Homo sapiens: one gene and its partners. The protein of the gene in region 1 purifies or fractionates together with the protein of each later gene. This does not show direct contact. Each region holds a gene or a part of one and is shown in the gene's direction. Other genes may lie near its edges. The genes, in order: SLC35B4, LBR, SLC25A12, WRNIP1, NPEPPS, IPO5 and XPO5.

Region 1 (3,500 bases):
CATCATGCTTCTTATAGTGTGGAATTCGCCTTGGGACAGGCCTGTGCTCTTTCCCAACCTTTGATTCTGGCTCATGACAAGGATACAAAAGAACATGTTATAAGAGAAATTGTATTCTCCTGATAGTGCCCCAAAATGTTACGGGTCTTTCTCAAGCATCTGTTGCCCTTAAGAACTTGTTCTGAGTGTGTCATCTTGCATCTATCTAAGCCTTTTGACTCTCTTTTCTGTGTGTATCTCTTTCCCATTGAGCAGGAATTTCCATAAGTTAACTTTCCAACAGAGTAAATTAGTAACTTCTTATCTCCTTTTATCTTGGGTAGAAGCCCCTCAAGTTCATAGTGTGCTCCTCATTCCAGGATTTGAATATCAAATTTATATTCACCTTACCCATGCCTTTATTATTATTTTTGGCCTCAGTTGTAAACCTCTTCAGCGTGATCTTTGCAGACTGAAGAGGTTCATTATTTTTTACCGTACCTCCGCTCGTACCTGCTTCCTCCCCAACCGCTCTCTAGCGTGGTCCTCTTGGCCCTTTTAGTCCCTTTCTCTGCCCATTAGCTAGTTCTGCTGGCCTTTTATGAGGTACTGTGACCAGGACAATACTATGTATTTGAGTAGAAAACCTGGGATGGTTCATCTTCTTAATTTCTTTTAATCCTTGCCTGAGGCCTTTTGCTTGATCACCAAAAATCTGAGAGGGTGCTAATGATACTAGCTAATGTGAAATGCTACTGTTATTACAGCCCATAGTTCTATAATCTGAATATCCTCCCCCTTATCCAACTATGCCAACATTTTAAAACAATGTTAAGTCATTCAGAGATTTAAAAAAAACAAGCCTCCCCCAGAGAATGGATGATTGGATTATTTTCTGAGCATTGAATCCTGCTGCTTGCACCTGATAGCCTGTTTTTCCACTCGCACAGTGTGTCTTAGGACACAGATTTGGTCCCCCTAAAGACAGGAAAAGCAACAGATCCTAGTAAGGACTGGGTCAGCCTTTCATCTGGACTCTTGAGAGCAGAATGCAACATCACATCTGGTCTATTTCTGTTTTTGTCTCCTGATGAAATAATCGATTGGTCAGCAAATTGTTGGAGACAGACTAAACAGTACTAAGGAAAAGTGTTGGTTAGAAACTAGTCAGTATCCTGATTCATTCATATGCATACTTCTGTGGACTCTGCTGGAAAGTAATCCTGTCTGTCATACTTTAGTGATTTGTACTTTCATGCACCATCTGACTGTAAATATCACTGGGAAATTCATATCTGTGCTTTCCTAAGGTGTTTTTCTTCTTTTTTTTCTTTTTTGCAGATACAGTATATTCAAATATACCTCCATTGCCCTGGTGTCTGTGGGGATATTTATTTGCACTTTTATGTCAGCAAAGCAGGTGGTAAGAAGCTCACAAATTATTTTATGTTCACTACTTGCTATTGGGGCCCAGTTACCAGGCAATTAATACAATTCAAATTTTTATGTAATACAAAGATTTTGAAAGAGAAGAGGGGAGGGAAATGGGTAACATAAATGTTTCCCTTGTATGTCGGCACCTTGCACGTAGTTCTGCTCTCTGTACCTAGTTTATTTTCTTATTTCCTAGACTTCCCAGTCCAGCTTGAGTGAGAATGATGGATTCCAGGCATTTGTGTGGTGGTTACTAGGCAAGTACAATAATTATAATAAAGCTAATTGCCTCTGCAGTTGTGTTTGCTGAGTTTTCTCCTAAGAGAAATGTTTCTTGGCAAGAAGCTTCAGCTAAACAAATTATGCCATGGAAGAGAGGCACCTGGGATCATATTTCTCTGAGCCTTAGCGTTCAAGAAATGAAAAAAAGAAAATGCCCCCACATTCATGGCAGTATGTTCTACAACATGGATCCATGTTTTTCTTGGTTGCCACTGGTGTAGAAAGAAAAGTGTGTGTCTACTTGCACATCACATCCTTTGAATGTCATCCGTCTCTTCACGATCTGTCTGCCAAGTTGAAGCTTCTGCAAGAGGGCACGTTAGAGCAATTGACTCTTTAAATTTCCGAGGGACTCATTTCTAAAGACTTATTTTCTTCAGAGGTTAGCTGTTCCATATGGCAGTGTTCCCAAACCTGACTGATTATCAGAATCTCCTGGGGAATTTTTAAAAATACAAGGATCTCTGTGGAATTAAATAGGCAGCTCCTGTAGAGCTTTGTTCTCACATTTTTTGATATGGAGCTGAGACTCGTTCCAAGGGCTTTCAATGACAACAATAACGGATTGAGACTGACCAATTGGAAGAGAAATAGCAGTGAAAGAACTGTGTTCTCCTTGCTTCTTGGCTTTGAGACTTTATCCCTTGTTGCTGTTTGTAACATAGAAAGATCCTTATGTGCTATTAGAAAAATACTCCAGAAGAAAAATTTGCAAAGGATATGAACATATAGTTCATGGGGGAAATAGTAGCACCCAACAATTTTAGGTTCAGCCTCACTAGTCTAGTAATCAGAGAAATGCAAATGAAACCCATGCAATACCTTTTTATGTTGGCCTATCATACTGGCAAGATGATAAATGGTTATCTCATTGCTGCTGAGGGTACAGTAAAACAACTATTTTTATATAATAAAAATAGTTTGGGTATAAATGGACACAGCATTTATGGAAAAATATTGTGTATTGTATTTTTTAAATGTCCACAGCCTTTGACTCAGTAATTCCACTTATGAGGGTTTATCCTAAAATATATCAACATTTGTTTAAAGATTTGTATACAAGGATGTACATTGATTTTAATAATGAAATAATTGGAAATAACCATCCTCATACATTTAAGTGTGCTACATCCATATCATAGTCATTAAAAGCATTCTATTTAAAAAATTTTAATGACTGATTTGAAGCAAAATTCCAGGCAAAAGCTCATGAAAAAAGCAAGATATAAAATTCCATATGCAATCTGATCCTGTCTTAGTGTAAAAAAATTTACATAAATGAATATATAAGAAGATGTAGAAAGCTGTAAAGGACTAGATGGTAATAATGTATTTTTATTTCTTTTTACAGTTTTGTACATGTTCTACAATTAGTTCATAATATTTGCAGGACTTTAAACAATAATGTTCTTCAAGAAAAACATCTGGAAATGAACAAATGCAGACATCTTGTCACCTGATGTTTGTTTTTTAGGTATTGGGGCATTGACTTTTGCTCTTCTGATGTCAGCAAGGATGGGGATATTCCAAGAGACTCTCTACAAACGATTTGGGAAACACTCCAAGGAGGCTTTGTTTTATAATGTAAGCAACTTCCTGAACCTGGGAACGTGAAAATTCCTAAGTTGTAAAATGTTACTTCAAGTGAACTATTAATATTCTCTGATGTAGTTGAAGGTGTATTATTGGTAGATGGCTTTGAGACCCACAGACTGAAGCAGTTTTGATGGGATGCTCTGGTGGGTTCCAAGTCACAGTTCACTACATGAGATGATCACGATCAATCAAAGCAAATTAAATTGTGT
Region 2 (3,500 bases), on another chromosome or scaffold:
GGAGACAGCTCATATCTGTCCTACTGGCTGCCCCTTGGACGTGGCCCCAGCTAGTTCATGTGGTACTGGGGAAGGTCGGCAGCCCTGGTTTTGTTGTGTGGAAATGTGATTCCGCTGGTCAGCCGATGGAGCGGCATTACTGTCTGGCAGCTGGAAGTACCCAGCTATCAATTGATATTTCAAAAAGGGTGGCAGACAGGCCTCACGTAAGTGGCAGTTCTTGCAGATTGCTTGTGGATTCCTAGAGTATTGTGGGGCTTGTGGGCCATGTTTTGAATCAGAGGAAAAGAATGTTATAATTGGGGGTTGATGGCTGCTGTAGGCTTGAGAGAAGTGAGCTTGGATGAAGGCAACCACCCTGGCTTAGGTGGGTGGTTGGCAGAGTTACTTGGTATGCATTTGTACTTTAGCTGTAAGAGTTGAAAGCTAAATAACCCCCAAATTTATTCATTACAGACTTGGAATTATTTTTCTTCCTATTGTTGGGTTATAGTCATGTTAATTGTACATCCTTGATTTTCCCAGTCTGGTTTATAGTTTGCTGTTTTTAATAAAGGCAATTTGTTAAAAATACAATTAAATGCATTTTTAAAGCCATTGTAAATTGATACGCAAATTTACAAATGAGAAAATGTGTTCTTTGTGAGATTGTGCCTCATTTTTTGATTAGCGAGAACTGTGATCACGGTAGGTGGGTAACATTTTACATAGTGTGAACTTATGGCGCCTATATACATTGTTATAATTAATCTTTAGTGTCACATAGATAACGCAGTGGCTAAATCATCCTCTCAAATGATTCCAAATGAGATTGAATGTAGCCTTTCTGGCCCTAAAATCCTGACCAGTCAATTCTGGAAAGTTGTATTTTAGTGATCAGCCTGTGGAAAAAGACGAATACATAAATGTGTATGTATTGACTCAAATTTTTTTCTTTAAAACTATTCAGGTTAATTATAGAAAATGCCAAGTAGGAAATTTGCCGATGGTGAAGTGGTAAGAGGTCGATGGCCTGGGAGTTCACTTTATTATGAAGTAGAAATTCTGAGCCACGACAGCACCTCCCAGCTTTACACTGTGAAGTATAAAGATGGAACAGAGCTTGAATTGAAAGAGAATGATATTAAGGTAAGAGCTCCTTTGGTTTATCAGAGTGTGTTTACAGTAAGTGGGAAATAACTCTAAGTATGGTTTCTAAGCTCAGGATAGTCAGTTCAGCTCGGTTTGAAGGCAGAGGATTGAGCTCTTGCTTTGGGTCACATACTGTTTTTGGCTCTGGGAATGTATGAATGAGGCATAGTCCTTGTTCCCAAGAAGCTCACACTTACTGGGAAAGACAGCCATTTGCATCTGTTGGTCCCCTGGGTTTACTACGTTCTGTGTCTGGAGTTTGCTGTGGGTGGTGTTGAGTGTATCAAGGGTAGAGAAGAGCCCTGGGCTTCAGGGGAGGCTTTCAGAGGCAGTGACACCTAGCCAAGTGCTGAGAACAAACAGGAAAAACAGCAGTTGATGGGGCTGTTTCTGCAGAGAGGGCAGTATGCCAAAGTCAGGGGTCTGGGGGACACAGTCAGCCAAGTGCTGGAAGGGGGTGGTAGGGGAGGGCTAAGCAGGAGCCAGGCTGGGGGGGCTTTTATATTCCATGCCCAAGGGTTTGGGCTTCATCCTGAACACCAAGGATTTAATCAGGAGAGTGACATTAATTAGATTCGAGTCTAGCCCAGGGCTTTTCAACCTGTCTGGTGAGGGCCTGGGTTTTAAGATATCTGATCCGTAGTATACAAACATTTATATAAAATGCCATAAAAATGAGTTACTAGAAAAATAAAGACATACACAATAGACGACTCACAGTTTTACTATCAGATTCGATAGATATGAGATTACTTTGTCAAAATGCTATAAACATTTCCATACACCTATTTCTCAATTTTGGTACTTGCACAGATTAGTAACGAGCATTTCTAGGACCCATGGCTGAGGATGACACTTCGAGTGCTCTAGACCAGGAATAAAGCACAGAAAGTAAATATTTTAGACTTTATGGGAGCGGCTCCAGGCAGTATGGAAGGGAGCAGACATGGCAGTGTTCCAGTACAACTTTATGGACAGTGAAATTTGAATTTTGGATAATTTTCACACTTCAGGAAATACTGTTCTTTTGATTTTGTTTGTAATCATTTAAGAATGTAAAAGCCATTCTTAGTAGGAAGGCCACACAAAAATTGGGGTGAGGGACTTGGCCTGGGGCGTAATTTGTCTACATCCCTAGAAGCAACATAAGGAGATTCGGAGTAGGTGGGGACACAGTGAAACAGTTCCCAGTCATCCAAGCTCATGTTTTATTTTCAAGATCTGCTTATGTGTTTTGTTCAGAGTGAAACTGTGGTACTGTTTTTTTTTTTTTGGTCTGTGTGCTTATTTATTTTGTCCTGTCGTCTCAGTTTTAATCCATGTTAATTATTACCCTTCTTGCATATGGTGTTGGAAATAAGTACAGCTAATTGGTTTAGATACATTCGTTTCATGGAAATACCTTCAAAGAACAGGAATGGAAAGGCTGCATTTGTCTCATGAAAGATGGATCATTATGAAAGCATTTTCCATTGGCTTCATCTGATCCATTCTCAGATCCTAACATTTCCCGTGCTGATTTTAGAGTTAATGGTAGCAGTTCCTGCCTTTGTTATCCTCTTCTAGTGTGGGTCTGTCTGTATGTGTTATGATTTGTGGTAAAGCTCTTTGCCTTCTTCCCCCTTTCTAGCCTTTAACTTCCTTTAGGCAAAGGAAAGGTGGCTCAACTTCCAGTTCCCCTTCCAGACGCCGAGGGAGTCGATCAAGGTCACGCTCCCGATCCCCTGGTCGACCACCTAAAAGTGCCCGCCGATCTGCTTCTGCTTCCCACCAGGCCGACATTAAGGAAGCAAGGAGGGAAGTGGAAGTTAAATTGACTCCGCTGATTCTGGTACTTGTGTTTATCCTTATACAGCCTTTTGTCTTCCGCTTTATGTATATATTTACTCAAGTTACTTGCAGTTAATAATATTAAAATGTCACTGAAACATCAAATCTAAGTTGATGACTTTGGGAGTTTTCATATAAAACAAATGTTTGGAATAGAAAGTTTTAAATATCAATGGAAAAGAATGTCCTTCAGTTACCAGAAATGCTATTTAATATTTTAGTTTTTAAAAAAGCAGCGTTCAAATTTGAAATAGATGTAGCTTGTAGATTGAACTGCGTAAGGTTTTTACAGTGTATAAAAGTTCATATCATGTATGAAATGGTAAGACAAACCTGTATTACGGAAACATTCTTACTCTTAGCATCATTATACTTTATCACTTTACCTATTCAAAGATGATTTTAGTGGAATTACTTTCAAGATGTAAGCTTTGAAATATCAGGGTGCATGGAGCCTGTAGATCTTGTACAAATAGTATTTTAGATAGTAGACCAAAGACAAAGTATGTTAAGTAAAAAGAATAAAAGTAATCTTCTAT
Region 3 (3,500 bases), on another chromosome or scaffold:
TTTTTGTATTTTTAGTAAAGACAGGGTTTCACCATGTTGGCCAGCACAGCTGGTCAGAGCCACACTGAGCTCTGTAATGGTTCATTACTGGTTGTATAGAGAGCAAACATGCACCCCTTCCTTCCTTTGTCTTTTCGGAGTGTTGGTGCAGCCAAGGACACCTGGTTCTCTCCTCCTTTTCCAAATCAGCTCCTTCCTAACTCAAGAGTCAGGCTGAGGCCGAGCTTGGTGGCTCATTCCTGTAATCCCAGCACTTTGGGAGGCCAAGGCGGGCAGATCACGAGGTCAGGAGATCGAGACCATCCTGGCTAACACGGTGAAACCCCGTCTCTACTAAAAATACAAAAAATTAGCCGGGCGTGGTGGCGGGCTTCTGTAGTCCCAGCTACTGGGGAGGCTGAGGCAGGAGAATGGCATGAACCTGGGAGGCGGAGCTTGCAGTGAGCCGAGATTGTGCCACTGCACTCCAGCCTGGGCGACAGAGTGAGACTGTCTCAAAAAAAAAAGAGAGTCAGGCTGTAAATGTGAGGTCTCAAACTCCTGACCTCAGGTGATCCTCCCATCTTGGCCTTCCAAAGTGCTGGGATTACAAGCGTGAACCACCACACTTGGCCCAGTCTCCTACTTTTAAATGGGGGCAGCATTTGCCTTCCAGGCTTTTCCTTGTGCTTTCCAATCAACAATGAAAAACAGCCAGAGAAGAAGAGTCTAATTGTGGACAGGTGTTTGCAAGTGGTTGAACCAAGTAAATATTTCCATGGAACTGTCAGCACCGACTTCTTCCCCATAGACATTTGATGTCAGTTTTCAGAATGAGATTATTTTTTCTAATTTTTACCAGTCAAGCTTTGCTAGCAGGAACTGAGAACATTCAGAAGTCTGCCTCCAAAGGCAGGAAGTTTACCTAGTTTCATCTGAATAGGGTGCAAGGCCATGCCAAGGGGAAGTATTTGCATTATTCCCTAGCAGAACCTCGTACAAGGCTGCCAACTCCATCCGCCTAGTGAGGATACAGTGATATTCAGGCCAAATTGAATTTCTTCCCCCGGGGAAGATTATTTTGCTCCTTTGCTCTCTGTTTTGTTTTATAAGTAAAAGGTGTGGTTGTGAAATCCATCTTTTGTGTCCTGCTGCTGATCAATCTCAACATGACCCCAGGGAGCTCGGGCACAGGGGCCTTTCCCTGACCAGCTCCCCTGTTGTTTCTTAACTGGCTGCCTGGCCACCTCTTGCTCCAGTTGTAATGACTTTTGTCATGTAAGCATGTCTGAAAGGAGTCACAGTCAACTCTCAAGGTAGCCCTTCAAACAAGCGAGTGATTATAAGTATTGATATTCACTTCCCACACTACGACAAGAATCAGCAAAAACAGTAGTTTGGTGTCAGATACATTTAGTGACTCACTAAGATGACATTATCATTTTTTTATACATAAAAATACTTGTATCTTATTTAAGAAAAAAAGGAGGTAAAATAATTGAAACTGAAAGGGAACGCTTGGGAATTGTCTTATTAATATTGCTACTTTTTTTTTCTCTCTCACAGTTATTTGGGATCATGCAATGTAGAGTGATTTTTTTTTTAATTCAGGAAAAAATAATAATAATTTTCCCCTGATCACACTGCAACAGCTAATAGGCTTCTATGCCCTTTTCCCATTAATGGCCAGACATCTATGTAAAGAGTTTTGAGTTCCGCTCAAGTGGTTGAAGTTGCAGGCTCTATAGTAGATGTTAGCAGTATTCCTATCTTTTATAAGGTACTCTAGATAAATTAAATGTGGTTTTCTCCTGAAAGGTGTCCCAGCTGCATCTCTGGTGACCCCTGCTGATGTCATCAAGACAAGACTGCAGGTGGCTGCCCGCGCTGGCCAGACGACATACAGTGGTGTCATCGACTGTTTCAGGAAGATTCTCCGGGAAGAAGGGCCCTCAGCATTTTGGAAAGGGACTGCAGGTAGGCAGGGGCTGGAGCCATACAGAATGGCTGGCTGGCTCTAGCGTCCTCCCCTGTGACTCAGTGGCTATCTTTACCACATTTGTCCTGGTTTCAAGTCTCCCCTGCCCCTGCTTCTCTTTTTCAGCTCGAGTGTTTCGATCCTCTCCCCAGTTTGGTGTTACCTTGGTCACTTATGAACTTCTCCAGCGGTGGTTTTACATTGATTTTGGAGGCCTGTAAGTCAGCTGCTCAACTCCTTTACAAAGAAATCACTAAGTCCAAAACAAATGTTTGTTCTGTCTACAAAAGCATTGTTGCAACTCTTAGAAAACTGATAAGACAGAACCTTTAAGACCAATGCATTTAAAACAGTGAGCTTAAGAAGCATTTGTGTTAAGCAAGTAAAACTTGACAGAGTGACATCGTACATAATATTAAGCAGCTATTTGGGGGATTTTAGGGAAGCAGCAAATTTTTTTAAAAAAGACAGGATATCCTCTGTTGCCCAGGCTGGAGTGCAGTGGCATGTTCTTGGCTCACCGTAGCCTCAACCTCCCGGGCTCAAGCGATCCTCCCACCTCAGCCTCCTGAGTAGCTGGGACCACAGAGGCATGCCACCACACCCAGCTAATTTTTGTACTTTTTTATAGAGATGGGATCTCACTGTGTTGCCCAGGCTGGTCTCGAACTCCACCAGCCTTGGCCTCCCAAAGTGCTGGGATTACAGACATGAGCTACCGTGCCTAGCCAGGAGGCAGCAGATTAAAATGCTGTGTAAATAATTGTCTTTTTTCACATAAGCAAATACTGAACTTCATGGCGTTCTCATTATGTGGATTTTATTATATGGCCCTTTCACAGAAGTAATGTAAATGTATACCAGTAACACTTTTGTGCATTTTCTTTCAAAGTCCCAAGCCCTTTTGCATCTCTGATATTTCATTATTCACCACAATTTATTATTAGTTAGGTGCAGATGTTCTTGAAGCTAATTTACTGGAAAAACCAATAGGTTTGAAGAGAGATTTTGCCCATGGATATAATCACTAGTGAGCTGTAGGCCAGAAATTGGGCTTCTAAAAGCTTACCACTTGAAGCTTGCACTGAGAAGAAGAATTACAAGTTGAATTTTCTGGGTGGGGAAGTTGTACCCAAAGCAAGCAATTATTAGCTTTTCAGCAGAAGACCAAGTACCATTCCTGAGTCCTCACATCAGAAACCTGTGAACTCCTCTGTGCCCAAAGGCCATATAGGGAATCAGCTGCTGAACCAAGTGGAGGGACCTATGCAAAAAAAGTGAGAACAGCAGTCTTACAGTTGCATTGTAGAAATGTGAGGCTTCAGGCTTTTCCATGCTTCTTTCATCTTCTGTAAAAGAACTAAAGCTATTTCTCTCTCTCTCTTTTTTTTTTTTTTTTTTTTTTAGACGGAGTCTTGCTCTGTCGCCCAGGCTGGAGTGCAGTGGTACGATCTCGGCTCACTGCAACCTCCACCTCCCAGGTTCAAGTGATTCTCCTGCCTCAGCCTCCTGAGAAGCTGGGACTAAGGGCGCCCACCACCGC
Region 4 (2,530 bases), on another chromosome or scaffold:
CCTAGAGCTGTGTATCAGAAGGGGCTCTGCAGAACAGAAGCTTGGCATCTTGCTAGTAAAATGTGTCCTCTGTGTCATTGGTAGGTGCTTCTGGCCCAGTGTGTGGTCTACTTTGCCAGAGCCCCAAAGTCCATTGAGGTGTACAGCGCCTACAACAACGTCAAAGCCTGCCTGAGGAACCACCAGGGGCCACTGCCCCCCGTGCCCCTGCACCTGAGGAACGCGCCCACTAGGCTGATGAAGGATTTGGGCTATGGCAAAGGCTACAAGTACAACCCCATGTACAGCGAGCCTGTGGATCAGGAGTACCTGCCTGAAGAGTTGAGGGGGGTAGATTTCTTCAAGCAGAGGAGGTGCTGACTCCTCAGGGCACGACAGCAGAAGGATGTTGCTTTTTTAAGGGAGGGCCAGAAAGAAAGTTAGTGGATTGCAAAGTTGGTTGCCTGGTGGAAGTTAGAACAGACCAACATTTTGTGCCAGAAATTTAAGAGTTCCATAGGTGGAGGCGCAGTTCTTTCGAATAAATGTGTAACTTTGAAATTGTGTTCATTTGCACTCGGTGCAGCGGTTATGCTTATGAAAATACCTGGCAGCTTTGTGCAATGAATTAATGTTATAAGGAATTATCTATTTTGTCATAGTATTTAAGTCATAATGTCATTTCAGAATTCAGTTCTGTAGGATTTTCTTTTCTTTAAAAAATGTATATTCTGGGTAGTTTTAATTGGTAAAAAAATGTAATTGTGATTTAATACTGCATAGTGTTTTGGGTATTTTTTTTATATGCAAAGGTCTTACGAGCCAATAAAACTATTTCAAAGTACTCTTCGATTCTGTCATGGTTTTCCTGCCTGGATGCTAGGTACCAGCGTTGTCACCATTGCATTTGGTGGGTGGATACTGGGAAGGAGAAATCACCCCAGATGGGAAGAGTGGGGAGCTTAAGTTAAGAAGTCAGTGTTATCTTGTTGAAAGTTAACTCTGATCTCTTTAAAGGAATACATAAAGGAATTCTTTAAATGGCTTGTGGAAGACTCCAGTAGTCCCATGCCCATTTTTTCCCACTTGTCCTGGTTTCTTCTTGCAGCTCCATATTTCTAAACAGTCGTTTTTCTTTTACTTTATGTGTGTCCTGAACACAAAATACGCCACTCCTTCTGCTCAGTTAAGAGTTATTTGTCCCTACTGCTACTTCCTCTCCCTCTCCTTAGTTGCATGTCGTGCATATGCCCACAAGGATGGCCCCTTCAGGTAGTCGGTTCTCCTCCTGCTGTTGCGTGATCCCTCCTGGGGTCCTCCTGCCATGTCTGGAAGGCTGCCGGCTGTTGGCCTGGGACGTCCTCTGCCTTTATTCTGAGTGAGATGCCCATTTTCTGGATGCTCCATCCCGCCTTACTGGTTTATTCCGCTATTTCAGTGCAACCCATCCTCTAGTAGTTTTATCAGGCTGGAGGGACTGTATGTTGCAGAGGCTTGGCCCGACTGGCCTCCCTCCTTCTGTCTGGAGTGGTTGCACTGCAGTGTGCAGTTGCCATCCCCAGAATCTCCCTTCATCATCACCCTGGAGCTTTCCTCTGCTTCTCCCTGCACCCCATCTGATGACAGGACTGACTGCTTTCTGGCACAGGTGGCATGTACCCTCTAGTAGCTTTATGGAGCAGGGGTGTGTGGAGGAAAAGTATTTTTAGACCTCAGGAGACTCAAAATGCTTTTATTGTACCTTCAGACGTGTCTGAGGGTTTGGCTAGTAATAAATTGTAGGTAAGAAATTACTTGTGCATTGTTTTACACTTTCCCACATTGTTGTCAAGTTTGAAGGCATCCTGATGTGTGTGGTCTTTTGTTTGTAACCTCTATCAACTTGTAGACTCTTCTGTCTTTGCTCCCCGTGTTTTAAAAGTCTGCACTGGGTACTTGTTGGGCCTTTCAATCTGGAAACTCCTTTCAGTTCTAGGGAAGTTTCTTTTTTTATTCAATAAATTTATTTATTTATGAGACCAACTCTTGCTCTTTTTCCCAGGCTGGAGGGCAATGATGCGATCTCGGCTCACTGCAACCTCCACCTCCCAGGTTCAAGCGATTCTCCTGCCTCAGCCTCCCAAGTAGTTGGGATTACAGGCGCACACCACCACACAAGGCTAATTTTTGTATTTTTAGTAGAGACGGGGGTTTCACCATGTTGGTCAGGCTGGTCTCGAACTCCTGACCTCGGGTGATCCACCCACCTCAGCCTCCCAAAGTGCTGGGATGACAGGCGTGAGCCACCGCGCCCGGCCTCAATAAATATTGAGTGCCTGTTTTATGCTGAGCATTCTTGTTGATGTTAAAACACATCAGTGAGCAGAAGAGACCAAAAATTCTGTGTTCTTAAAGCCTATGGTATGAAAAATAATATGTTAATATGCCAAATAGTGATAAGTGCTATGCTAAGGAGAAAATGAATGAAAGATTGAATATGGAAAGGGGAGGTATGGGTGCAGTTTTAGTAGAGTAGCCAAGGTGGATCTCACCAAGAAAGTGTTTGAGTCAA
Region 5 (3,500 bases), on another chromosome or scaffold:
GCTTGAACTCGGGAAGCGGAGGAGCGGAGGTTGCGGTGAGCTGAGATCACGCCATTGCACTCCAGCCGGGGTGACACAGCGAGACCCTGTCTTTAAAAAAAAAAAAAAAGTTGACTAATCTGAATGGAAATATTTCTAAAATACATTATCTTTTTATGCTTTGCAATTCCTCATAGTGTAGGTTTGTTTCATTGTTTTTTTTAAATACTGAACTTTATTTTGAACATCTCTCATTGACCCCAAACTATGTACTATAATTTATCAGTTTCATATCTGTTTTTTTTTTTCTTTTTTTTTTCTTTTTGAGACGGAGTTTCGCTCTGTTGCCCAGGCTGGAGTGCAGTGGCACAATCTCGGCTCACTGCAACCTCCGCCTCCCAGGTTCAGGCAGTTCTCCTGCTTCAGCCTCCCTAGTAGCTGGGATTACAGGCATGCACCACCACGCCTGGCTAATTTTGTATTTTTAGTAGAGACAGGGTTTCACCATGTTGGCCAGGCTGGTCTTGAACTCCTGACCTCAGGTGATCTGCCTGCCTCCGCCTGCCAAAGTGCTGGGATTACAAGTGTGAGCCACCGCGCCTAGCCATATCTGTTCTTTTTTTTTTTTTTTTTTTTTTTGAGACAGAGTCTCACTCTGTTGCCTAGGCCAGGCTGGAGTGTGCAGTGGTGCGATCTCGGCTCACTGCAACCTCCACTTCCCTAGTTCAAGGGATTCTTCTGCCTCAGCCTCCCTAGTAGCTAGGATTACAGGTGCATGCCACCACACCTGGCTAATTTTTGTATTTTTCTAGAGACCAGGTTTCGCCATGTTAGCTAGGCTGGTCTCAAACACCCGACCTCAGGTGATCCGCCTGCCTCTGCCTCCTAAAGTGCTGGGATTACAGGCATGAACCACCGCGCCTAGTCCATATCTGTTTTCTTTTTTTTTTTTTTTTTTTTGGAGACAGAGTCTTGCTCTGTCGCCAAGGCCGGAGTGCAGTGGCGTGATCTCAGCTCACTGCAACCTCCGCCTCCCGGGTTTAAGCGATTCTCCTGCCTCATCCTCCCAAGTAGCTGGGACTACAGGCACCTGCCATCATGCCAGGCTAATTTTTGAATTTTTAGTAGAGAAGGGGTTTCACCATATTGGCCAGGCTGGTCTCGAACTCCTGACCTTGTGATCCACCCGCCTCGGCCTCCCAAAGTGCTGGGATTACAGGCCTGAGCCACCGCACCCGGCCAGCCTGTATCTGTTCTTTAAAGTTGTTTTGTTTTCCTTACTCTCATGTTCTTCTTGCTGCTTATTGTGCCTTGTTGCTGCCTGTTGTGCAATTTCTTCCCTCTTGTATTTTACTGAACTTCATCTGAAGAAGCCTTAGTAGCCAGATAAACAAGCTTGTTTGGGCTAAAAAATCAATTGCTGTGTGAGAGTTTGTTGGATTCTCTTCTGAGTAAAGGGTATGCGTTTTATTGTACGGACTTTGTATCACCTATTTTGGCTTTTCATCTAGGCCTTTTTTTTTTTTTTTTCTTTTTTCTTTTTAGCCTCCTGGTTCTAGATACAACTGATACTCTGATACAACCTGGGTAAATGTGGTCTTGAGTAGTAAATTATCTGTGAAGCTTCTCCGAACTTTGCCACATAAATGAGCCTGCTCTTATTGTGAAGTAAATCTTACTCTAATCTGTATGTGAGTCAGTGGGAAATATCTGAGCCTTCGGATGGCTTTTGTTAACTGAGATTAGTTCTCTAGATTTTAGTGATTTCGTTTTGAACACCATACAAGTATGTGGTCCTTGGTTTATTTGGTCACTTGTAATCTCTTTAAAATTTTATTTTAAATTAGGAAATATTTTAGAAATACAAGAAAGTCACACACTATGAGATTAAACAGATGTTAACGTTTTGCCCCATTTTCATCAGACTGTGCATGCTTTTTTTGGGGGGGGAATAAAATGTCACAGATATCACTAAAGCCCATTTCCATCTCGTCCCACCCTGCCTCTAGAAGTAACTTCTTTCTTCAGGTAGGTGCGTATTATTCCTTTTTATTCCTATGTATAGTTTAAAACTTTAATTGCATATTAGTAGCCACAAACATCACATACCAATATTCTGTGCCTTTTGCATTTTTACATTAATGGTAATTATTTTTGACCTTCTGCAAGTGGCTCTTTTCAATGTTTCTTGTTAGAAAACTTGGCTCAACTTGAGTTTACTAATTATCTGCTTCTTCTTGTCTTTAGCTATTATAGAACTGTTCCACCAAGGCAACAATTATTGCTATTTTAATGGTGAAATCAGTTTTATTAGGCAAATTGACTCAGGCTTCAGACTGGCATTTGGAATTGTCACACTGGAGATTTTCTTTTACTGAAATCTCAGGACATTGACAATCAGAAAAAAACCCTCTTGAGTCTTACTATCTTACATGTAAGATATGTTCCTGAGTGACTGTAGTAAAGACTCATTCAGGAAAATGTTATCTCCGATTTCTGCCTCCCTATCTCATAGGAAACTTCCATTGTAAAGTTGTTACCAGGCGTCAAGCTGCCTCTTTGGTACAGCCCTTACTTAGTATTTGGCTCAGTTGAAGTGCAGTCTATATAGGAGGCCAAGAAGACTTAATCCTGGGTTTGAAACAAAGCAAGGATACACTAACATTCTATCCTTTAATAACATCAAGTAGAAAAATTGAAAATGAGCTTGTTATCAGTGCACTTTTATATGCCAACCTTGTTTCACTTGTGTTTTAAACTGGGAAACTGAAGATTTTAATGCTGAAATTTCTTTGAATTATTACCTGTTTTTTTGATAGTGGAACACACAGCTAATATTTACTAACATGAAGGTGTCAAAGGTGGGAAATCATGTACTACACCATCAGGTCAGCACTACTGTTTGGAAGAGCAGCATCACAATGAGCAGTGTTATACTGCGTTGTAGTCAGCACATACACTTATGTCCAAACAGATATTTTAAATTACCTTCTTGGGGTAGTACACATGTGCTGATATCCAAAGTGCCATATAATACAATACATAGTTTTTAAACTTCATATCATTCTGATCAGAAGCTTTATAAACTGTTAGGTGAATGCTGTTAGATGATATGAGAGCACAATTTAACCTGTGTGTGTGTATGTGTATGTCTTAACATCTATTAAGTGATGACTACATATGAAGCACTAAGTGCTAAAACAGAGACTTTACATAGATTATCCCATTATTGGTCAACTTTTTAAATAAGTGCATCTCTAATATAAGACAAGATGCTGACCAATTTTTAAAATGTGAATGGATTTCTATTTTTAAGATAAGTACCTTTGTTCCTTTGGTTCCTCCCTCCCACCCTTCCAGAAATGGTAGTATCCTGGAAAAAAAAAATTAGTAACAATTCAAGAAACAGCTTAATTCATTAGTATAAATAGATGAGTTTCCCTTAAACACAGGAGGAGTTGGAAGGTACTTGTAATTGGATGTTGTGCATGGTGCCTTTCCAAAATGCACAAATACTTTCT
Region 6 (2,561 bases), on another chromosome or scaffold:
GAAAATCATGAAGTTCAAGCCTGACTGTGTAAACGTTGAAGAGGTCCTTCCACACTGGTTGTCTTGGCTTCCACTACATGAAGATAAAGAAGAAGCTGTTCAGACTTTCAATTATCTGTGTGACCTGATTGAAAGGTAGGAAAGCAGACTGTGACCTTATTTCCTTCTCCTCCACAGTGCTTCCTGGTTTTTCTTGCCTAACATCAGTCTTTTAAGGTTTAACCACATGATCTCTGCACAGTCCTCAGTTGTATAGGTTTATAATAGTGCTGTCTTTATAAATCATATTAAGAAACCATATCACAGTTAACATTGCCCTTATAATAAGGTCTAATTTTGAGTTATTCTTTATGAAATTAGATTCAACAGATGAGGCACTTTAATTATTTATTTCTTTGTTTTTAAATTTTTTTGGTAGCGACAAGGTCTTAACTGTTTTGCACAGGCAGGTCGCAAACTCTTGGCCTCAAGAGATCCTCCCACCTCAGCCTCCCAAAGTGCTGGGATTACAGGCATGAGCCACCAAACCCAGCCTAAGGGAATGTTGTTTAGTGTCTGTTTTCTAAGTCCAAGTTCCCCCCAAATATCAGTCAGATCTAAGCTCTGTCGCTATTATTATTTTTAGGTTATGAATAAATTCAAGGGCTACAACCACTGCCACTATTGTAGCAATAGGCCAACAGGTATATTCTCCATACTTGTTTAAGTTCAGGTTCACATAAGAAATGGGTTTGAGTCTTCCACTGACCATATCATTAAGGAATGTAACAGCCATCCTGCAGACTACATACTCCTGACCTGCTCCTACATCTGAAATGACCAGGTCTTAATCATGCTATTTGATCATCTTCCTTGGAAACGACTACTCTGAAATTCTCTTAGTGACAAAGACTAGAATTCTTAAATTCGCTATCAGGTTTTTTCCCATTAAACTTGCCTGAGTTTATTTCCCAGTTTATTCTTGAAATGTTTATATAATTTTTTTGAACTTCAGAGTTATTTTAGAAGCTATTTTGTAGTAGCAAAATAAAACTTGTGTTAAACTTATTTTTAATAATACAAAACATTTTTTTTAACACATCACAAATTATTTATAAGGTATTTAGAGCATTCTGTTGTTTGGCCCTTAAAACAATCCTGAGAGATGAGCCCAGTATTTTTTTTTTCTAATTTATGTAGAAAGAAACTAAAGAGTTCATATATAAGATTGGCTGGTTTTCTTCCTACTGAATTTAAAAGGCCATTGATTTTAGTGAACACATAATCATATTTCTCCTTATAAATTTCACTTACTAAGGTTTTCTTCTCATTTGTCAGTAATCATCCAATTGTTCTTGGCCCAAACAATACCAATCTGCCCAAAATATTTAGTATAATTGCGGAAGGAGAAATGCACGAGGCAATTAAACATGAAGATCCTTGTGCCAAACGTCTGGCCAATGTCGTTCGCCAAGTACAGGTAAGCTGATTTGGTTGAATTGGGGAGGGGGAGATAAAACCTTTTTTTCTTTGTAGTCCTCTATGAGAAGAAACTAGAAATCTAATGAGCTAAGGAATTTTATTTTTATATTTTCATAGTCTCTTGTCTCCAAGCCTCAAATGGATTATACTTAATGTAATCCATCCGTATGTACTTATTATTTATTAGAATTAAAACCTTCATCTTAGGACATTTTGAGCTTACCAGTTGGTGCTTAACACAAGCTTATGTGTAGTTTTTCTGCCTATCTTAAGAAAAAAAAACAAGATTTAATAATAACTTGTCATCTGCCAAAAAACTTTATATGATTTTTACTTCCTATATTCATGTGGTATATGGGTTACTTTAAGATGTTACCTGCTTAGTGTAGCTTTTTCAGTGCAAAAATGAAGAAAACTTACTGGAAATGAAATGAACTTTAAAAAAATGAACAGATTTCTTGCTTTTACAATGATACTCATCAAAATAATGTACCTAGGGAGAAGGTATTTTGCCATGATTACAGTTTACCTATGATGATGATTAAAATCCTTCCAAATGAGCATTTCGTCCTAAGTCTGTGAAAATGTTTCTTTCCCTAGACTTCTGGAGGACTGTGGACTGAGTGCATAGCACAGCTCAGTCCTGAGCAGCAGGCCGCCATTCAGGAGCTCCTGAACTCTGCGTGAAGGGCCTTAATGTCACCCACCAGAAAACTAACTCCAAATAAACGCTTACCCTTTCCTTTAGGTTTCTTTGTTTTGTTTTTGAGCAAAAGAGATCGGTAGTGTTGTGTGTAGGCCATTCTTCTGGAGAGCCACAAGCAGGAAGAGCAGCGCTGTGTTGCAGAATGGAGTTTCCATGGATTTCTACCAGACCACTGAAGGAGTTCCTGGAAGCCCTGCGGTAGCTAGCACTGAAGACTATTTTTCTATTGGTATAACCCGCCCACCTGAAGGGGAAAGGGAAATCAAATTAATTTTTCTCGTTAGACATAAGGAAATTTAAGGAAAAACAGCTTTAAGAACAGTTACTCAGCGTAGATGTGTGTTCACACAAATTGCTCTGCATTCAGTGTTCATTGTGAATTGGGAGTGTGAGT
Region 7 (3,500 bases), on another chromosome or scaffold:
TCCTAACTTGATTGTCCTACCCTCAACACCTATCAGAAGAGGTAGCCTTTAAGACTTAGCCATAGTTTTTCCAGAATTGTTTTGTAAGCCAGCACAGAAAATGACTGATGTCAAAACTGCATTTTCTGAAAAGCAAGTACATTGTTGCAGTTGACCTAGATGTATATTCACTTTTGGCCCATCAATAAAATCATGAGGCAAAGCTGACGTGTGGTACAAATCTTGTGCGGATTCCAGTTAATGGACCACTGCATATATAAAACCTTTTCCCAAGAATTTTTGTGTTAGTATTTTGGTTAAATGTAGATCATTTTTGCCCATTCATTGACAGGTACAAAATCAAAAGTATAATTTCTTAATGAAATCTCCAGTGTAATCAAATGTAGAAATCCATGCTATTCTCTTGTAAAGACAAGACTTCTAAAGTGGTTCTATTGACTTTATGCATTTTGGTGGTCAGGTTTCGGTGGAACGGCATGTCTCGATTGGAGAAGGTGTATCTGAAGAACAGTGTCATGGAGCTGATTGCAAATGTAAGGAATGGGTGGTTGGGAGACATGTTTCCAAGGTAGTTTAGGCAAAGCGTGACTTCTTCAATAGGGAGTTTGTGTAAAAATTCACTGCTTCTAAATAGGTCAGACAGCACAAGAAATCATAATTTAGGCCAGGCACAGTGACTCACACCTGTAATTCTAGCGCTTTGGGAAGCCAAGGTAAGAGGATCACCTGCATCTAAGAATTCGAGAGCAGCTTGGGCAATGCAGTGAGACCCCATCTCTACCAAAAATGCAAAAATTAGCTGAGCGTGGTGGCGCATGCCTGTGGCCCAGCTACTCAGGAGGCTGAGGTGGGAGGATTTTCTGAGCCCAGGAGGTCCAGGCTGCAGTGAGCTGTGATGGTGCCATGGCACTCCAGCCTGTGCAACAGAGCAAGACCCTATCTCAAAAACAAAACAAAACAAAAGCAGAAAGCATAATTCAGCATATGTCTCTTACTAGGTTTAATTAATCATGCTTATGTATTGACTTCTATTTTTTAAATTATAAAGACAGGGCAGAGGGGATTAAATATTTTCAACAAATCAATAAGATTCTTAGATCTAAATTAGATTGAAACACTATTTTCTTTTATTCCAAACAACTACTATGTGATACTAATGATGAAAAACATGCAGAATTTTAAGTATGCAGAATGAATTTGTTTCAAGTATTAGAATATGACTTTTTTTTTTTTTTGAGACAGAGTCTCTGTTGCTCCGGCTGGATTGCATTAGCATGATCATAGCTCACTGCAGCCTCGAACTCCTGGGCTCAAGTGATCTTCTCGCCTTAGCCTCCCAAGTAGCTGGGATTATAGGCATGTGGTACCATGCCCAGCTAATTTTGTTTTTGGTTTTTAGAGAGACAGGGTCTCACTGTGTTTCCCAGGCTAGTCTGGTCTCAAACCCCTGGCCTCAAGCAATCCTCCCACCTTGGCTTTCCAAAATGCTGAGATTACAGGTGTGATGACTGGATGACTGTCTCTTTAAACACAAAACAGAATATGACTTTAAACATGTTCAAAATTGTAGCCTTTTTTCTTTCTTGGTTTTTTTTAAATAACAGACATGAGAGATGGGATCTTCTAATACTTCTGCGTCTTCTAGTGTTAGAACTATTGGTAAAATATTCATTTGCCCCTTCATACCCTTCCATTTTACCAGCTACTCACTATACTCCTTATTTCTATACTCTTCCTCCCTGGCCTTCTGCAAACTGAAACAATCAATATGAGAATCTTTTCATTTTGTAAAGAATAATGATGTCATCCTAGCTCTCGATATGACAGCCTTTTAGGTGATGCAACCCTCACTTAAGCTTTAAGCGGAAGAGTGATTAGCAAGAATGCAGGACAAGTGACTCAGGCTGAAGAACAGGTTCATTTGTTCTGTTTGGTTTAAAAGTAGGCCTGCTGATAAATTTTTTACAACTCTACAGCCCAGCTTTTTTCTGGAAGTCTGGAATCCAGTCTTGCATATCTCTTAATATCTCTTGTTCTTTTTCAGGGAACATTGAACATTTTGGAAGAGGAGAACCATATTAAAGATGCTCTGTCTCGAATTGTAGTGGAAATGATCAAGCGAGAGTGGCCACAGCATTGGCCTGACATGCTAATAGAATTGGACACTCTTTCCAAACAAGGGGTATGAAACACAGCTATATCAGTTTGGTATACTTTTCCTTGGAACAAACTTCAGGGTTTGTTGTTTGATTTTGTTTGTGGGTTTTTTTTTTTGGCAACAGAAAATAGCCTTTGGATATACATAAAATGAAAAGATATTTTAGTTTTTAACTAGCTTATTTCTATTGGTGTAGGAAACACAGACAGAATTGGTGATGTTTATCCTTTTGCGACTGGCAGAGGATGTAGTGACTTTTCAGACACTTCCCCCTCAAAGAAGAAGGGACATCCAGCAAACATTAACCCAGAACATGGAAAGGATCTTCAGTTTTCTGCTTAACACACTTCAAGAAAATGTAAACAAGTATCAGCAAGTGGTAAGGGATACCCCTACCTATAACATTTCTATTTTCCAATATGAGTGTTTTTGATTAATCTTACAGTAAGGAACTAGGGTGTCTAGGTCAGCAAAATGAAATCCTATTTTATAAGCAAAAAAATAAAAAACTAGGAAATGACAGAAAAACTGGAGCTCATTTTCTTTCTTTTTTTTTTTTTTTTTTTTTTGAGACGGAGGCTCGCTCTGTCACCTAGGCTGGAGTGCAGTGGTGTGATCCCGGCTCACTGCAACCTCTGCCTCCCAGGTTCAAGCGATTCTCCTGCCTCAACCTCCCAAGTAGCTGGGACTACAGGCGCCCGCCACCAGGCCCGGCTGATTTTTTGTATTTCTAGTAGAGACGGGGTTTCACTATGTTAGCCAGGAAGGTCTTGATCTCCTGACCTCATGATCCGCCCGCCTCCCAAAGTGCTGGGATTATAGGTGTGAGCCACGGCACCTGGCCTTTTTTAAAAAAAAAAAAAAAAAAAAAAAAAAAGATAGGGATCTCGGCTTACTGCAGCCTCCACCTCCTGGGATTACAGGCATGTGCCACCACACCTGGCTAATTTTTGTATTTTTAGTAGAGATGGAGTTTCGCTGTGTTAGCAAGGCTAGTCTCAAACTCCTGACCTCAGGTGGTCTACCCACCTTGCTCTCCCAAAGTGCTGAGATTATAGGTGTGAGCCACCGAGCCCAGCCCTAGGTGTTATTCTTAATTTTATTTTCAGAAGTTCTTTAGGAAAATACTAATTTTTTTTTTTTTTTTGGAGAGGGAGTCTCACTCTGTCACCCATGCTGGAGTGCAGTGGCACAATCTCGGCTCACTGCAACCTCCGCCTCCTGGGTTCAAGCGATTCTCCTGCCTCAGCCTCCCGGGTAGCTGAGATTACCGGTGCCTGCCACCATGCCCGTCTAATTTTTGTATTTTAGTAGAGATGGTGTTTCACCATGTTGGTCAGGC

The links.
Region 2: the proteins of SLC35B4 (region 1) and LBR purify together in Homo sapiens (affinity purification with mass spectrometry; one large-scale study listed by BioGRID and IntAct). This does not show direct contact.
Region 3: the proteins of SLC35B4 (region 1) and SLC25A12 purify together in Homo sapiens (affinity purification with mass spectrometry; one large-scale study listed by BioGRID and IntAct). This does not show direct contact.
Region 4: the proteins of SLC35B4 (region 1) and WRNIP1 purify together in Homo sapiens (affinity purification with mass spectrometry; one large-scale study listed by BioGRID and IntAct). This does not show direct contact.
Region 5: the proteins of SLC35B4 (region 1) and NPEPPS purify together in Homo sapiens (affinity purification with mass spectrometry; one large-scale study listed by BioGRID and IntAct). This does not show direct contact.
Region 6: the proteins of SLC35B4 (region 1) and IPO5 purify together in Homo sapiens (affinity purification with mass spectrometry; one large-scale study listed by BioGRID and IntAct). This does not show direct contact.
Region 7: the proteins of SLC35B4 (region 1) and XPO5 purify together in Homo sapiens (affinity purification with mass spectrometry; one large-scale study listed by BioGRID and IntAct). This does not show direct contact.

Annotation. Positions count from the first base shown.
Region 1 is NC_000007.14:134,299,931-134,303,430, reverse strand, and holds part of SLC35B4 (nucleotide sugar transporter SLC35B4), read left to right. Parts: intron 1-1,320; coding exon 1,321-1,402; intron 1,403-1,609; coding exon 1,610-1,670; intron 1,671-3,169; coding exon 3,170-3,279; intron 3,280-3,500. UniProt on the Homo sapiens protein: Antiporter that transports nucleotide sugars across the endoplasmic reticulum (ER) membrane in exchange for another nucleotide sugar.
Region 2 is NC_000001.11:225,421,539-225,425,038, reverse strand, and holds part of LBR (delta(14)-sterol reductase LBR), read left to right. Parts: intron 1-949; 5' UTR 950-963; coding exon 964-1,128; intron 1,129-2,761; coding exon 2,762-2,962; intron 2,963-3,500. UniProt on the Homo sapiens protein: Catalyzes the reduction of the C14-unsaturated bond of lanosterol, as part of the metabolic pathway leading to cholesterol biosynthesis.
Region 3 is NC_000002.12:171,786,245-171,789,744, reverse strand, and holds part of SLC25A12 (electrogenic aspartate/glutamate antiporter SLC25A12, mitochondrial), read left to right. Parts: intron 1-1,797; coding exon 1,798-1,956; intron 1,957-2,083; coding exon 2,084-2,174; intron 2,175-3,500. UniProt on the Homo sapiens protein: Mitochondrial electrogenic aspartate/glutamate antiporter that favors efflux of aspartate and entry of glutamate and proton within the mitochondria as part of the malate-aspartate shuttle.
Region 4 is NC_000006.12:2,784,923-2,787,452, forward strand, and holds the end of WRNIP1 (ATPase WRNIP1), read left to right. Parts: intron 1-84; coding exon 85-360; 3' UTR 361-2,030; downstream 2,031-2,530. UniProt on the Homo sapiens protein: Functions as a modulator of initiation or reinitiation events during DNA polymerase delta-mediated DNA synthesis. In the presence of ATP, stimulation of DNA polymerase delta-mediated DNA synthesis is decreased.
Region 5 is NC_000017.11:47,537,608-47,541,107, forward strand, and holds part of NPEPPS (puromycin-sensitive aminopeptidase), read left to right. Parts: intron 1-3,500. UniProt on the Homo sapiens protein: Aminopeptidase with broad substrate specificity for several peptides. Involved in proteolytic events essential for cell growth and viability. May act as regulator of neuropeptide activity.
Region 6 is NC_000013.11:98,019,675-98,022,235, forward strand, and holds part of IPO5 (importin-5), read left to right. Parts: coding exon 1-135; intron 136-1,317; coding exon 1,318-1,459; intron 1,460-2,061; coding exon 2,062-2,148; 3' UTR 2,149-2,561. UniProt on the Homo sapiens protein: Functions in nuclear protein import as nuclear transport receptor. Serves as receptor for nuclear localization signals (NLS) in cargo substrates.
Region 7 is NC_000006.12:43,569,539-43,573,038, reverse strand, and holds part of XPO5 (exportin-5), read left to right. Parts: intron 1-460; coding exon 461-533; intron 534-2,044; coding exon 2,045-2,182; intron 2,183-2,354; coding exon 2,355-2,537; intron 2,538-3,500. UniProt on the Homo sapiens protein: Mediates the nuclear export of proteins bearing a double-stranded RNA binding domain (dsRBD) and double-stranded RNAs (cargos). XPO5 in the nucleus binds cooperatively to the RNA and to the GTPase Ran in its active GTP-bound form.